Linked DNA regions of Homo sapiens. The protein of the gene in region 4 purifies or fractionates together with the protein of the main gene of each other region. This does not show direct contact. Each region holds a gene or a part of one and is shown on either strand. Other genes may lie near its edges.

Region 1 (3,500 bases), on a different chromosome or scaffold from region 4:
CTGTTGCCCAGGCTAGAGTGCAGTGGCGTGATCTTGGCTCACTGCAACCTCCGCCTCCTAGGTCCAAGCAATTCTCATGTCTCAGCCTCCCGAGTAGCTGGGACTACGGGCATGTGCCACCACACCCAGCTAATTTTTGTATTTTTTGTAGAGATGGGGTTTCGCCATGGTGGCCAGGCTGGTCTTGAACTCCTGACCTGAAGTGATCTGCCCGCCTTGGCCTCTTGAAGTGCTGGGATTACAGGTGTGAGCCACTACTCCTGGCCCATGTGGTATTTTCTTTGTGTCTGGTTTACTTAGCATAATGTCTTCCAGGTTTATCCATGTTTTTACTTTTATTTATTTATTTTGAGACAGGGTCTTGCTCTGTGGCCTAGGCTGGAATGCAGTGGTGCGATCATGGCTCACTGCAGACTCCACCTCCAGGGCTCAAGAGATCCTCCCACCTCAACCTCTGGAGTAACTGAGACTGCAGGTGTGCGCCACCACACCTGGCTAATTTTGTAGAGATGGGGTCTTCCAGTGTTGCCCAGACTGGTCTTGAACTCCTGAGCTCAAGCAATCCACCTGTCTCAGCCTCCCAAAGTGCTGGGATTACAGGCATGAGCCACTGCACCTGGCCAGATCTCCTCTTCTTTAAAGGCTGAATAATATCCTGTTGTGTATATGTACCATTCATCCTTTGACAGATGCTTAGGTTGTTTCCGTATCTTGACTGTTGTGAATAATGCTGCAGTTAACATGGGAGTGCAGACATCCCTATGAGCTGATGATTTCATTCCCTTTGGGTATATACCCAGAGCAGATATTGCTGGACCATATGGTAGTTTTATTTTTAATTTTTTGAGGAACTTCTTTATTTTTTATTTTATTTTTTATTTTTTGAGATGGAGTCTTGCTCTGTTGCCCAGGCTAGAGTGCAGCAGCGCGATCTCGGCTTACTGCAGCCTCTGCCTCCTGGGTTCAAGCAATTCTCCTGCCTCAGCCTCCCGAGTGCCTGGGATTACAGGCATGTGCCATCATGCCTGGCTAATTTTTTTTTTTTTTTTTTTTGACATGGAGGTTCGCTCTTATTGCCCAGGCTGGAGTGCAGTGGCGCAATCTCAACTCACTGCAACCTCCGTCTCCTGGGTTCAAGCAGTTCTGTCTCAGCCTCCCGAGTAGCTGGGATTACAGGCATGTGCCACCACGCCTGGAATTTTGTATTTTTACTAGAGATGGGGTTTCTCCATGTTGGTCAGGCTGGTCTCGAACTCCTGACCTCAGGTGATCTGCCTGCCTCGGCTTCCCATAGTGCTGGGATTACAGGTGTGAGCCACTGTGCCCGGCCAATTTTTTTGTACTTTTAGTACAGATGGGGTTTCACCATGTTGGCTAGGCTGGTCTCGAACTCCTGACCTCAGGTGGTCCACCCGCCTCAGCCTCCCAAAGTTCTGGGATTACAGGTGTAAGCCACTGCGCCCGGCCAATTTTTTTGTACTTTTAGTAGAGATGGGGTTTCACCATGTTGGCTAGGCTGGTCTCAAACTCCTGACCTCAGGTGGTCCACCCGCCTCAGCCTCCCAAAGTTCTGGGATTATAGGCATGAGCCACTGTGCCTGGCTCTCTTTTGGGTTTTCTATATATAAGATATGTCATTTGTAAGCAGGGATAATTTTACTTCTTTCTTTCCAGTTTGGATGCCTTTTTTTCTTGTCTGCCTGCACTTTCTAGTACTTTTAGTACTATGTTGAAAAAAAGTGCTGAGAGTGGCCAGGGGCCATTTGGCAATGTCTGTAGGGATTTTCGTTGGACACAGGTGGAGGAGTGCTACTGGCAGCTGTAAGATCAAGGCCAGGAATGCTTCTTCCCAGCTTACAGTACACAGGACAGCCCCCTATAGCAAAGAATTACCCTGCTCAAAATAGCAATTATGCTGAAGCTGAGAAATCCTTCTCTGCCTGGCTGACTGGCTGGCTGGATGTTTGAAGGCACTTTAAACTCAGACTTTTGTTTTTTGAGATGGAGTCTTTCTCTTTCGCCCAGGCTAGAGTGCAATGGTGCAATGGCGTGATCTTGGCTCACTGTAACCTCTGTCTGCCTCCTGGATTTAAGTGATTCTCCTGCCTCAGCCTCCCTCATAGCTGGGATTACAGGTGCCTGCCACCACGCCTGGCCAATTTTTGTATTTCTAGTAGAGATGAGGTTCCACCATGTTGGCCAGGCTGGTCTCAAAGTCTCCTGACCTTAGGTGATCCGCCTGCCTCTGCCTCCGCCTCCCAAAGTGTTGGGATTACAGACATGAGCTACTGTGCCCGGCCATCCCAGCCTGTCTGAAGCAGGTCATTATCACATTTTTCTCCATCTCTTTTTCTCTTCCCCATCTATGTGTATAGTTTTGTTTTGTTTTGTTTTGTTTTGAGATGGTGTCTTGCTCTGTTGCCCAGGCTAGAGTGCAGTGGCGCAATCTCGGCTCACTGCAACGTTCACGTCCTGGGTTTAAGCGATTCTCCTGCCTCAGCCTCCCGAGTAGCTGGGACTACAGGTGCGCACCACCACGCCCAGCTAAGTTTTGTATTTTTAGTAGAGACAGGGTTTCACCATATTGGCCAGACTGGTCTTGAACTCCTGACCTCGCGATCTGCCTGCCTCCCAAAGTGCTGGGATTACAGGTGTGAGCCACCGTGCCCAGCCTAGTTGTTTTTGTTTTTTTGATCATAGCGATCCTAATGGGTGTGAGATGAGATCTTGTTGTGGTTATAGGAGTTGTTTTTTATTCTAGAACTCAGCCTTTTATTCTCTAATAGCTGTACTCCCAGTTCTTCAGCGTTTCCCTTTCCCCCCAAATCAGATGTCTTTTTCTGCATTGCCCATAGGCTTGGTGAGACGTGCTGGCAGCACAAAGGGGACTGAGTCAGCAGCCACAGCCAAGAAGAAGGTGTCCACGGGAGGACATAAATGCACCCCAGCCTCCTAAATAGAAGAGGCTTATTCTTGAAGAATGGTCCTTGCCAGGGCCGAGGGCTGGAGCAAGGCACTCCAGACTCAGGCCAATGTGGCTTAGAGCCCGGGTGAATATGCGTGGCTATGGGGAATGAGAATGAATGTGGGTCTGCCTGCTGGGCCATGCGGTAGACGGGCAGGGAGGAGCTAGAACTCCAGGGCCTTCACTGTCACAGGGGCAGAATGATTTGATCCTGTGGCTGCCAGGGCTTCTGACTAGTGGTAATTGATAGAATGACACAGCCAAGTTTGCTTTTAGGGAAAATCACTGACAGCAGTAGTTTTTGGCAAGACCAGAGACAGGGACACTGGATGGAAGAGAATACCAGCGGCAGCTGTGGAGGAGGTTTCTTCAACGGTATTAGAGGGCCAGGCATGAGGGCCTGTAATCCTAGCACTTTGGGAGGCTGAGGCGGGTGGATCACAAGGTCAGGAGCTCGAGAGCAGCCTGGCCGACATGGTGAAACCCCATCTCTACTAAAAATACAAAAATTAGCCGGGCCTGGTGGCGTACGCCT
Region 2 (3,500 bases), on a different chromosome or scaffold from region 4:
CTTCTGCACCCTGAGAAGAAAATAAAAAGATGGCCTCAAAATTAAAAAGAATATACACTAACTCAAAAAACAGCCTTGGACTGCTAGAGTATAAGACTGGCAGAACATACTAAGAATTCCCACTGTGATTTTAAAAACAGATCTAGGTTTTAAACAAAGTGAGCAAGGTACTTCACATCCTGATTTAAACATATATGGCTTGTTTGCTCATACAACCTGAGTTTTGCTTTCTTGTCTAGTAATGTCAATCGCAAAAGCAATGTGTAACCTCTTTAAAGAACATAAATTAGCAAATATACAACTGTCAAAGTAGAAGCAATGCTAGACCAGGAAGAATATTCCTCAATGGGAAAGACTTGAGATACTGTTATTTTCCTAGAATGTGTTGAAACCTATGTTAGTCTAGGAGGTACCAAGAGGACAATCCCTATTCATGGGCTCATATGATTCTCTGTCCAGCACAAAGGTACTGAGTGAAACTTCTCCTATTTTGGCAGCAACAAGAAGAAAGGGTCTTTGATGAATAATATTCTCCACACATGTAGTCCTTCTTTAGCCTTTCCTATTATCCTTGAAACAGATTTAGAATTCTTATTCTCATATGGACAAATGGAAAATGTTTCAAAAATGTTAAAAAAATGTAGACCAAGAAGATTTCAGAGAGTGTATTTCACACCCTACATCACTTTGTAAAACCCTGAGTTCTGAAAACATACAGAAGAAAAATCAACCCAAAACAATTTTTTAAAAATTGGATGGGATATCAGAGATCCTCACAGAGTGGCAGGTGCTGGTGAGTGATTTGAAAATCTAAAAGACTTACAAGATACCCTGGGGATCACACCGGTAAAGATAATCACTTAAATTTCTGCATCCAATGAAATAAATTGTTTTTCTTTTAAAACACAATGGTTTGAGAGCCATTAGGAACATGACCTATGGAATGGTATATGTGTATATGGGAGGAGCACATACAGGGAGTTAACCTCTCATCCAGTTAATTTATAATTCAGCTGCCATGATTAGCTGCCATGGCAGTTGTGCTATATGTAGTTTTAGCGTGTTTTTAATCTTACTCAATATTGTTTTACTAGTATCTATAACAGACTAAACACAAAGCATAAAGGGCATTACAGACACGGAATTAAATATATAACAGTATTAAAAACTTCTGTAGCTAGTCTTCAGGAAAATCCCTTAACTTCTTGGATTCAGTTCACCCGGACGAAGCTATCTTAGGGTCTATCAGGGTACCTTCAGCTTCCCAAAATCCAAGCCAAACAGAAAACAAAATGATTAATATTCAATTTCGATCTCCTTTTATTGGGATTAAAATATTCTTTACCATGTATTATTTGTAGGTAGAAGTGCTTACAAGTCAGCCTGAAAACTTTACTTTGATAAAAGAAATCTTTTGCCCCAAAGCAGTTTTTCTTTTCTTTTTTTTTTTTTAAAAAACGGAATCTTGCTCTGTCCCCCAGGCTGGAGTGCAATGTCTCAGTTCACTGCAAACTCCACCTCCCAGGTTCAAACGATTCTCCTGCCTCAGCCTCCTGAGTAGCCGGAATTACAGGAGTGCGACCACACTCAGATATTTTTGTAATTTTAGTAGAGACGGGTTTCACCATGTTGGCCAGGCTGGTCTTGAACTCCTGACCTCAGGAGATCCGCCTGCCTCAGCCTCCCAAAGTACTGGGATTACAGGTGTGGGCCACCACGCCCAGCTGCAAAGCACTTTTAATATATTGTTAATACATAAGATAGTTAAATTTTAATCTGCATTTCGAAATACATACCTTTGGTATAAAAATATAAATTATTTTTAAATTGAGAAATCAGCTTTTCTTTCCATAATCAGAGTTGATCATTTATTAAATAAGAAATTAAAGTATCTTTATTGCAGAATGTTTATAATGACAATGTCAAAAATATTTCTGCTAGCTGGGTGTGGTGGCTCACACCTGTAATCCCAGTACTTTGGGAGGCTGACACAGGTGGATCACCTAAGGTCAGGAGTTTCAAGACCAGCCTGGCCAACATGGTGAAACCCCGTCTCTACTAAAAATACAAAAATTAGCCGGGCGTGGTGGTGGATGCCTGTAATCCCAGCTATTAGGGAGACTGAGGCAGAGGAATCACTTGAACCTGGATGGTGGAAGTTGCAGTGAACCAAGATCGCGCCACTGCACTCCAGCCTGGGCAAGAGGGAGACCCCATCTTAAAAAAAAAAAAAATTCTGTTTAAAAGTCACTTCCTGCTATTGTACAAAAATTCCAAAGTCATGTCAATTCATAAGGGGCTGATAGATAATTTATTGTGCAACAGTACTATGTGCCAGCACTTTGATACCCAACCACAATTTCCTCTCACCTTCTCTCCTTCAACCACATCAAACTCTACAGTTTCTCCATCTCCTACACTGCGCAGATATTTCCGTGGGTTATTCTTCTTGATGGCAGTCTGGAAAGAGAACAGAAAATTTTATTCGATGTATATTTCAATATTGGCCACAGATTTCACTGCTTTCAAGTACACCAGAGTGAACTTGAAGAAACTGTTGACCGATTCTTATTTTTCCACCATTCTCCCACTAAGTTGGATCTCCAACACAACAACAAGAAAGCACTATAAAACTATATTCCACATTACTTCCTTGATTTGTGCTATTCATCTTGACAGGTGGATTAAACAGAACATGTTTTTTCTATAACTGCAGTGTGTGCAGTGACTACACACTACTGTTACAGGCTGATCACCTGATCATATCAGATGTATTAATTACCTCAAACCATTAAGCTTCAGAGATTCTCTGAATCTCCGGAGGAGGAAAGGAGGCAGTGATAAAGAAAAACAAATTAAAATGCCAAGGGGATAAATATTTCTGACGAGTAAACAAAATTATCTCAAGAATCAGAACGTATTAGTAATAATCTGGCCTCCCCCCTCTCCTCCCATTTTGCAGATGAGTTAACACGAGGCTAACAGTTAAAGTGATTTATCTGAAGTCACAACCGTAACAGCCCCAGGGATGATGGGGGAAGTGGAGGAGGGGGAATTCATATCCCTGTACTCTACCTATATGATATTTATTCAACTTTTCTCCCATCACACAATTCATGTCAACAAATCCTACATTCCCTGATAATACATTAAAAGGTTAGTGAAGATGCTATTCTTCATTAAACATCTACACCTAAATATCTGCTTATGAATAGGTGCTGCTCTCTCTTGTTCCATCAATGAAGGCAGAAAATAATTCCTGCCATGCATTTCCATTTCTTTGGCTGGTATCTCTAAACAGTTAAAGGGGCTTGCGTTTCTATGGAACTAGGTCAACCTTATTTTATAAAGCGATTAAGCATGTGTAATCCAGCCCGTCCCCTAACTCTGAGTAGGAGGGAAAAGAAATAGTGAGCCAACAGAGCAGAGACCTCACCCATAGAGGAAAAAAGGCAGTTCAGGACAGGCACGCAGCATGAACATTCAGCCATTCCAAAAAC
Region 3 (3,999 bases), on a different chromosome or scaffold from region 4:
GGGAAAGGAAAAGGAATTATCTTTGTCTCACCCCAAACAATAATGATACTGACATTTTATTGTGCACGGTGGTTTTCAAAACACTTCATACGAATTTCCCATTTTATAGCTGGGACCACAGAGCCTCAGGGTTTCATTCAAGGCCTCACAGCCAATAAATAGCAAAACTGGGACTCAAACCCAGAATTTCTGACTAAATTCAGTTTTATTACTCCAAGAACCTCTCCCACATAGTTGGCCACATGGACAGAGGAAGTGGTTGAGTTTAAGTGTGAGTGCTCTGTGCAGGCTGGATGGTCTTCTTATCCTCAAGCATCTGTGGATGTCATTGAAGAGCCTGACTTCCTAATCACTTCCCAGGATCACCAGGCAATACGTGATTACTGACTGACTGAATCAATATACACTTGGATCTTGGTTTGCAAACTTTCACTTGGTGTCCCGCATCACACAGGTCCAGAAACAGCGAAACTTTTCTCATACCTCTCAACCTCTGGGTGTTCATGTAGACAAGGGACAGTTGATGGTTATACAAACCATCATGGTTATAAAAAATCTCTATTCGGTGCCTAGTTATTGTGTATTTTTGGTGTGGCATGGGAAGAAAAGAGCCAAGATATTTTGAAAATCGACACCTCTTTTGCAGTATCCGAGGCCAATTACTTTCTGTAAGAGGAGGTCGATTTCCAATTAGCATTTAAGGTCATTTAAGACCTTTGCAGTCTCCCCTGCACTAGTTGGGGCTCTTTCTGGGAAAGAGGGAAACTACAAGAGAACTACAAGGCTGGCATTGAGGGGCTCTTGCAGTCTCTAAACCCACCATCCCTTTCATTGTTGAACTGGGGTGGTGAGCCTGCACAAGCATGGGTGGTAGCTGACTTCCCTTGGGCAGGTCCAGAACAGGGAGCAGCATTCTGCAGAAGGTCCTTTTCCAGATTGAGAAACCCAAACCCTGATCTCCTCTTTTGATGATTTTACAAAAATCAAATTGCATGACAGATGCCCAGATAAACAGAAGTTTGCAATCAAAGCAAGTTCTGGGATGGAGCTGATTAGTAGATTTTTAATGGCTATTAGCTTGATAATCACGCACCAGGAATAGCTCCCAGGCAGACCAAACCCACGTATAAGTGGATCCACACCCATGTACACAACACCTAGTTGGCAGGTATATAAGGGGACCCTGAAAGCCTCCCAGCAGCACAGTTGAGTCTCCAGCCTTGACTCTTCTCAAGAGCCTGTGACTTTCCTCCCTGGACAAAGGCATCATGAGTTGTCAGATCTCTTGCAAATCTCGAGGAAGAGGAGGAGGTGGAGGAGGATTCCGGGGCTTCAGCAGCGGCTCAGCTGTGGTGTCTGGTGGAAGCCGGAGATCAACTTCCAGCTTCTCCTGCTTGAGCCGCCATGGTGGTGGTGGCGGGGGCTTCGGTGGAGGCGGCTTTGGCAGTCGGAGTCTTGTTGGCCTTGGAGGGACCAAGAGCATCTCCATTAGTGTGGCTGGAGGAGGTGGTGGCTTTGGCGCCGCTGGTGGATTTGGTGGCAGAGGAGGTGGTTTTGGAGGCGGCAGCAGCTTTGGAGGTGGCAGCGGCTTCAGTGGTGGTGGTTTCGGTGGAGGCGGCTTTGGTGGAGGCCGCTTTGGAGGTTTTGGGGGCCCTGGTGGTGTTGGAGGTTTAGGGGGTCCTGGTGGCTTTGGGCCTGGAGGATACCCTGGTGGCATCCACGAAGTCTCTGTCAACCAGAGCCTCCTGCAGCCTCTCAACGTGAAAGTTGACCCAGAGATCCAGAATGTGAAGGCCCAAGAGCGTGAGCAGATCAAAACTCTCAACAACAAATTTGCCTCCTTCATTGACAAGGTGACTCTGGAGAAGACGGCTCCCACTGATGCTCAGGCCACTTCACTTCCAGAGCCAACCAAAAAGAAAATGGCACAGATTTGTATTTCTTAGGAGCCAGTGGTGTACCGCAGTAGCCTGGGTCATTTGCGGTTTCCAGATGGAAAAGACGCCAGCTTTGTGGGTTACATTTCCCATAACAGCCTGCACTTAGGAAGCATTTGTCCCTTTGACCTTATTGTTACAGTCCATATAAATAATATTTATGGAAAATTCTGAAAACCATAAAAAATGGATATAGGCAAGTATTGAACTGATCCTTGGGACAGGCCACTGGAGCAGCAGGTTTTGGAAGCCATCGTCTTCTGAGATAGTGTTTCCTTCCTTAGCAGTGATTACTAAACTCTGGGAAGCTGAACCTGAAATATCTGCTTGGGAATGCAGGAAATTCCTGCCTTCAAGAGAAGCGTTCTCAGTTTTGTGATCCATAAAGTCTTTATTGGTGTCACTTCGGAGTGTTACTGGCTTTTCTCCTATTTCAAGGCAGACGAACCTGTCTTGGTTTATCTGCCTTGAAATAGGCAGGGATTTACAAGGCTCTTAAAAATCAGGCTGAGGAGCCCTGCCCTCTGGGACTCTCATACTCAGCACCCTTGCGAGCAGTGCCAGCAGATGGCTGCTTTCGGTTTTCCCCAGAATTTATGGGATCTTGGCTGGAAATTCAACCAGGATGCGGGGAGGGAAATGGTCTAGAGTATTGGGAGCAGCTGCAAACAAACCAGTGAGCAGTGAAGCAGCAAAGAGTCTCCTCTGCGTGGAGAGAGCCGGATGTAGCATTAGGAGTCTGTGGGACTTTCCAGGGGCGAAAGCAGGGAGCTCAGAAGCTCTGCCAGTCATGACTCGGCATCCAGCCTCAGACACTTCTCGAGGTCCTGAAGCAGCACCTGAGCTGCCCCTGGCCAGCGTGGCTTGCTTGGTGTGAAGGATGATCTAGAACTCATGTGCTCTCCTTCTGGTCATGGCAGGTGCGGTTCTTGGAGCAGCAGAACCAGGTGTTACAGACCAAATGGGAGCTGCTACAACAAATGAATGTTGGCACCCGCCCCATCAACCTGGAGCCCATCTTCCAGGGGTATATCGACAGCCTCAAGAGATATCTGGATGGGCTCACTGCAGAAAGAACATCACAGAATTCAGAGCTGAATAACATGCAGGATCTTGTGGAGGATTATAAGAAGAAGTAGGTGGCAGAGTGAAACGCTGAGTGGAGATAAACATTGCACTGAGCCATTTGATCACTCCCTGGAAAGCCATTCATCTCCCAGTTGCATTTGTGGTGGTAATGGGGAGAGGCATATGTATCTTTGTTGATTATTTGTGAGGAAGACAGTGAGACTTTAGAGATCATTTTTGTCTTTTGTATGTTTGAGAGTTAGTTTATAAAAATATATCTTTAGTTTGGAAATCTTAGTTTCAATTTAGATATTTAAAAAGTGTGTAATATTCCCAGAGAATGGGGCATTTGGGGTGAATCCAGTATAAAAGGAAAAGAAAAAAAATGAAGGGGAACTAATCTAACTGCTGTAACATCTGTGTCCCAATAGGTATGAGGATGAAATCAATAAGCGCACAGCTGCTGAGAATGATTTTGTGACGCTTAAAAAGGTGAGCGAGAGAATGTCTTGGCTGGGGGTGGGGATAGGAGTGCTTCACAGCCCCATTGTGTCTAAGCAGCCAGTTTGGAAATCAACTGTGAGTGCAAAAGCAGCAGCCAGAGAAAGGAGTGAGACCCATGGCACATTCTCTTGCAAACAAAATTGTCTCTGTAGGTCAAGCTTCTGGATACAGTTTTCAAAGCTGTTCTGCATTTTTGGTAGAGTGCTTCCCAGTAGTAACCCACTTAAAGCCTCTACTGAATCATGATAAATGCAAACACAAAAATCTCTTTGTATTCTCCTTCTAAAGAGCTGAGGAAGGAATGGGACTTCCCTTAGAATGCCTGCTTAAAGTTGCTGTTGGTTGTGCTGACAAAGGTTTGAGGTTGTAGGCCAAAAGCAAGGGTTCTCCTGCTGGGTCCTGCAGGGCCTTTGGTGTATATTCTGGGGAAATTTCGGAGAGGTGAGATGGACAGACGGGATGAGAGAGCTGAGGACTGTGGAAACCCACA
Region 4 (3,500 bases):
GGGAGGCGGAGGTTGCAGTGAGCTGAGGTTGGGCCACTGCCCTCCACCCTGGGTGACAGAGACTCAGTCTCAAAAAAAAAAAAAAAAAAAAAAGAAAAGAAAACCAAAGTACAATAAATATCTTTAACATACTTACTGAAAGCAAAAAAAACCTGCATGCTCAATTTATTTGCTTAGAAAGATTATGAAAACTGGCTGGGCGTGGTGGCTCACACCTGTAATCCCAGCACTTTGGGAGGCTGAGGCGGGCGGATCACGAGGTCAGGAGATCGAGACCATCCTGGCTAACACGGTGAAACCCCGTCTCTACTAAAAATACAAAAAATTAGCCAGGCGAGGTGGCAGGCGCCTAGTCCCAGCTACTTGGGAGGCTGAGGTAGGAGAATGGCGTGAACCCGGGAGGCAGAGCTTGCAATGAGCCGAGATCGCACCACTGCACTCCAGCCTGGGCGACAGAGACTCCGCCTCAAAAAAAAAAAGAAAGATTATGAAAACTAAGCAACAAAAAAAATCATATCATGCAACCTGAGGAAGCCCCTAAGATTCAAAATTTACTAAAATGAATGTCTGTGCACTATGAAGCAAATCCTAAGCATATTAATGGATATAGTTTTTCCTAAGCATACATAATGGATACAGGAAACAATGTGCAGATTGCATATCACTCATAGCAAAAATAGGTCATCATTATAAAGGCTATGAAACTAGAATGTTATTTGGTGAATACATCTTTATATAACATGTTGTCATTGCAAAATAGTAAACACCATCCTATTTGCTTCCCTAATCAGTATGCTAAACAGAAATTTAAGACTTCCATTAAGTTCTTAAATTACAGAAGCATTAAAACCTTGTTTTCCCTAAAAGTTAACGAAGAATTATAAGACAAAGAACACACCCAAACCAAGAGAATGAGGAAGGGAATGATAAAATCGGAAGGTAGCCCACCTGCATGAGAATTATTTTAAATATTAACCACTCATCAGAGTGCCTTGAAGTGATGATTCTGTGCCTCTAGATAATTCTAGAGCCACATGAAAGATTTCATTTCACCTTCCCTCTCTTTCCCCACCATAACACTCACCATACTCAGTTCCCGTGTTCTCTTCCCGATTTCCCTTTCCACCTGGTGCAGTTCCAAGCTCAACTGCTCACTTGAGATCATCCCAGGCCATTTTGGAGGTGGCGGTGGTGGGGGCTGTGACTGGCCTGCCAGGGTGTTTGCCTCCCTCTGCAACACCAGCCTGTTACTAACAGCCTAGTGCATAAAGCCAAGCACACAGAAAACTCAACACACTTCACACCATGCACAGAATAACCAGGCTCAATTCCAGACCACAGCCTTGAGTAGCTTATCACCCAGCCATTTGCAACAAAATAATGCAACTGTAAGGTGCTGTTCTCTTTGAGTACCATTCAAACAAAAAAATAACAAAATAGGGACATTTAAATTTAGTAAACAGTAATTTCATCTTATGTATAAATTGCTCCTTGTATTTTCTGATTTGAAAGAGAAGTTGGCTACGCATGGTGGCTTGTGCCTTTAATTCTAGCACTTTGGGAAGCTGAGGTGGGAGGATCACTTGAGGCCAGGAATTTGAGATCCACCTGGGCAATATATCAAGACCTCGCCTCTACAAAAAATAAAAAATAAAAAAACCAAAAAATTAGCCTGGGATGGTGGTGTGGGCCCGTAGTCCTAGCTACTAGGGAGGATCACTTGAGCCCAGGAGTTTAAGATTACAGCGAGCTGCTATGATCATGCCACTGCACTCCATGCACTCCAGCCTGGGCAACAGAGTGAGACTTTGTCTCTCAAAAAAAAAAAAAAAAAAGGAAATGGAAGAAAAACAAGTCAACTACAGATGTGCATCTTTCCCCCTCTGTTTTTAATGGTAATTTTCTCTGAAGTAAATCCTATAACTTATTTCAATGAAACCTCAGTAATGGCAAGGACTTTTAACTGTACTGAGTTAAATATGTGGCAAGTTTCTAAATAATACTGATAGTCTTTTTGGACAGAAAATGCTCCTGGAAACTTTAAAACAAAAAATCATGCATGTGGTGGGGGGAAAGCGGAGGGATAGCATTAGGAGATATACCTAATGTAAATGACGAGTTAATGGGTGCAGCACACCAACATGGCACATGTATACCACATGTAACAAACCTGCACGTTGTGCACATGTACCCTAGAACTTAAAGTATATAAAACAAACAAACAAACAAACAAAAAACCATGCATTTGAAGATATGGAGTAATGCCTTATTGGGTTGAAGGTCTGAATCTTTAAAAAGTTAATGAACGAAAGATTGCCATAAGCAAACATGGCATTCTGTTTCTATGACAGGAATCGGCAAGACGTTCTGAATCAATGTAAATAAGCAATGGCGAAAGCAGACAAAATCTAAGTATTACATAGATTTTTAAAATTCCTAAATCTAATTGCGTACATAGGGGCACAAGCCAGCTATATGTTCCAAAAACAATCTCCTACTGGTCTTCCTAAAAAGAAAGTCTACTAAGAAAGTCTGTCTTATAACTTTTTTTCCCCCCTAAAGTGATGGCTTACTTATTATTAAAGATTATGGTAGAAAGACAGACTAATGTTCTAACAGTACCATTTTTTCCTCCAGAAAGGACAATATATTTATCATTAGAATGTCTTCAGTTTTCCATATTCAAAGAATATGTTCCAACGTAAAGGATGATGTATAAACAAAACCTAGTCTTCCTTATGTGGCACTTAAAAGATTTTAAAAATTCCTTTTTTTTTTTTTTTTGAGACAGAGTCTCACTCTGTCACTCAGGCTGGAGTGCAGTGGCACCATCAGGGCTCACTGCAGCCTCAACCTCCCTGGGCTCAGGTGATCCTCCTGCCTTCAGCCTCCTGAGTAGCTGAGACTACAGGCGTGCACTACCATGCCTGGCCAATTTTTGCACTTTTTGTAGTGAAGGGATTTTGCCATGTTGCCCAGGCTGGTCTCAAACTCCTGAGCTCAAGCAATCCATCTGCTCTGGCCTCCCAAAGTGCTGGGATTACAAGCATGAACCACCACGTCCAGCCAGATTTTAAAAATTCTTTAGTTTTGTTTTTCTAAGTGTCAGGCAGCATGATGGAAAGAACACTGAATCTGGAGTATGAAGACTTGGGTTCGTGTTTCAACTTCTGAGAAACTCATATACTTCAATCAAAAAAGGAGGACAATACCACCTGCCTAAAATATCAGGGATATTCTAAGGGTCAAATAAGATAAGTGGTAGTGATTTTTAAATGGTACAGAACTACGTAAATGAAAAGTGTTATTATTCTTATTACACCGGAACTATGTTTTACTTTTTAAGTCAAAGTTCTGTTTTTTTTTTTGAGACGGAGTCTCACACTGTAGCCTGGGCTGGAGTGCAATGGCGCAATCTTGGCTCACTGCAACCTCTGCTTCCTGGGTTCACACGATTCTCCTGCCTCAGCCTCCTGATTAGCTGGGATTACAGGTGCACA

Evidence for each region.
Region 1: the proteins of RC3H1 (region 4) and DHX30 purify together in Homo sapiens (affinity purification with mass spectrometry, with the first as the bait; 2 studies listed by BioGRID). This does not show direct contact.
Region 2: the proteins of RC3H1 (region 4) and YBX3 purify together in Homo sapiens (affinity purification with mass spectrometry, with the first as the bait; 3 studies listed by BioGRID). This does not show direct contact.
Region 3: the proteins of RC3H1 (region 4) and KRT2 purify together in Homo sapiens (affinity purification with mass spectrometry, with the first as the bait; 2 studies listed by BioGRID). This does not show direct contact.

Annotation. Positions count from the first base shown.
Region 1 is NC_000003.12:47,834,138-47,837,637, forward strand, and holds part of DHX30 (ATP-dependent RNA helicase DHX30), read left to right. Parts: intron 1-3,500.
Region 2 is NC_000012.12:10,713,324-10,716,823, forward strand, and holds part of YBX3 (Y-box-binding protein 3), read right to left. Parts: intron 2,461-3,500; coding exon 2,371-2,460; intron 11-2,370; coding exon 1-10. UniProt on the Homo sapiens protein: Binds to the GM-CSF promoter. Seems to act as a repressor. Also binds to full-length mRNA and to short RNA sequences containing the consensus site 5'-UCCAUCA-3'. May have a role in translation repression.
Region 3 is NC_000012.12:52,649,412-52,653,410, reverse strand, and holds the start of KRT2 (keratin, type II cytoskeletal 2 epidermal), read left to right. Parts: upstream 1-1,199; 5' UTR 1,200-1,268; coding exon 1,269-1,853; intron 1,854-2,857; coding exon 2,858-3,072; intron 3,073-3,436; coding exon 3,437-3,497; intron 3,498-3,999.
Region 4 is NC_000001.11:173,942,358-173,945,857, forward strand, and holds part of RC3H1 (roquin-1), read right to left. Parts: intron 1,259-3,500; coding exon 1,085-1,258; intron 1-1,084. UniProt on the Homo sapiens protein: Post-transcriptional repressor of mRNAs containing a conserved stem loop motif, called constitutive decay element (CDE), which is often located in the 3'-UTR, as in HMGXB3, ICOS, IER3, NFKBID, NFKBIZ, PPP1R10, TNF, TNFRSF4 and in many more mRNAs.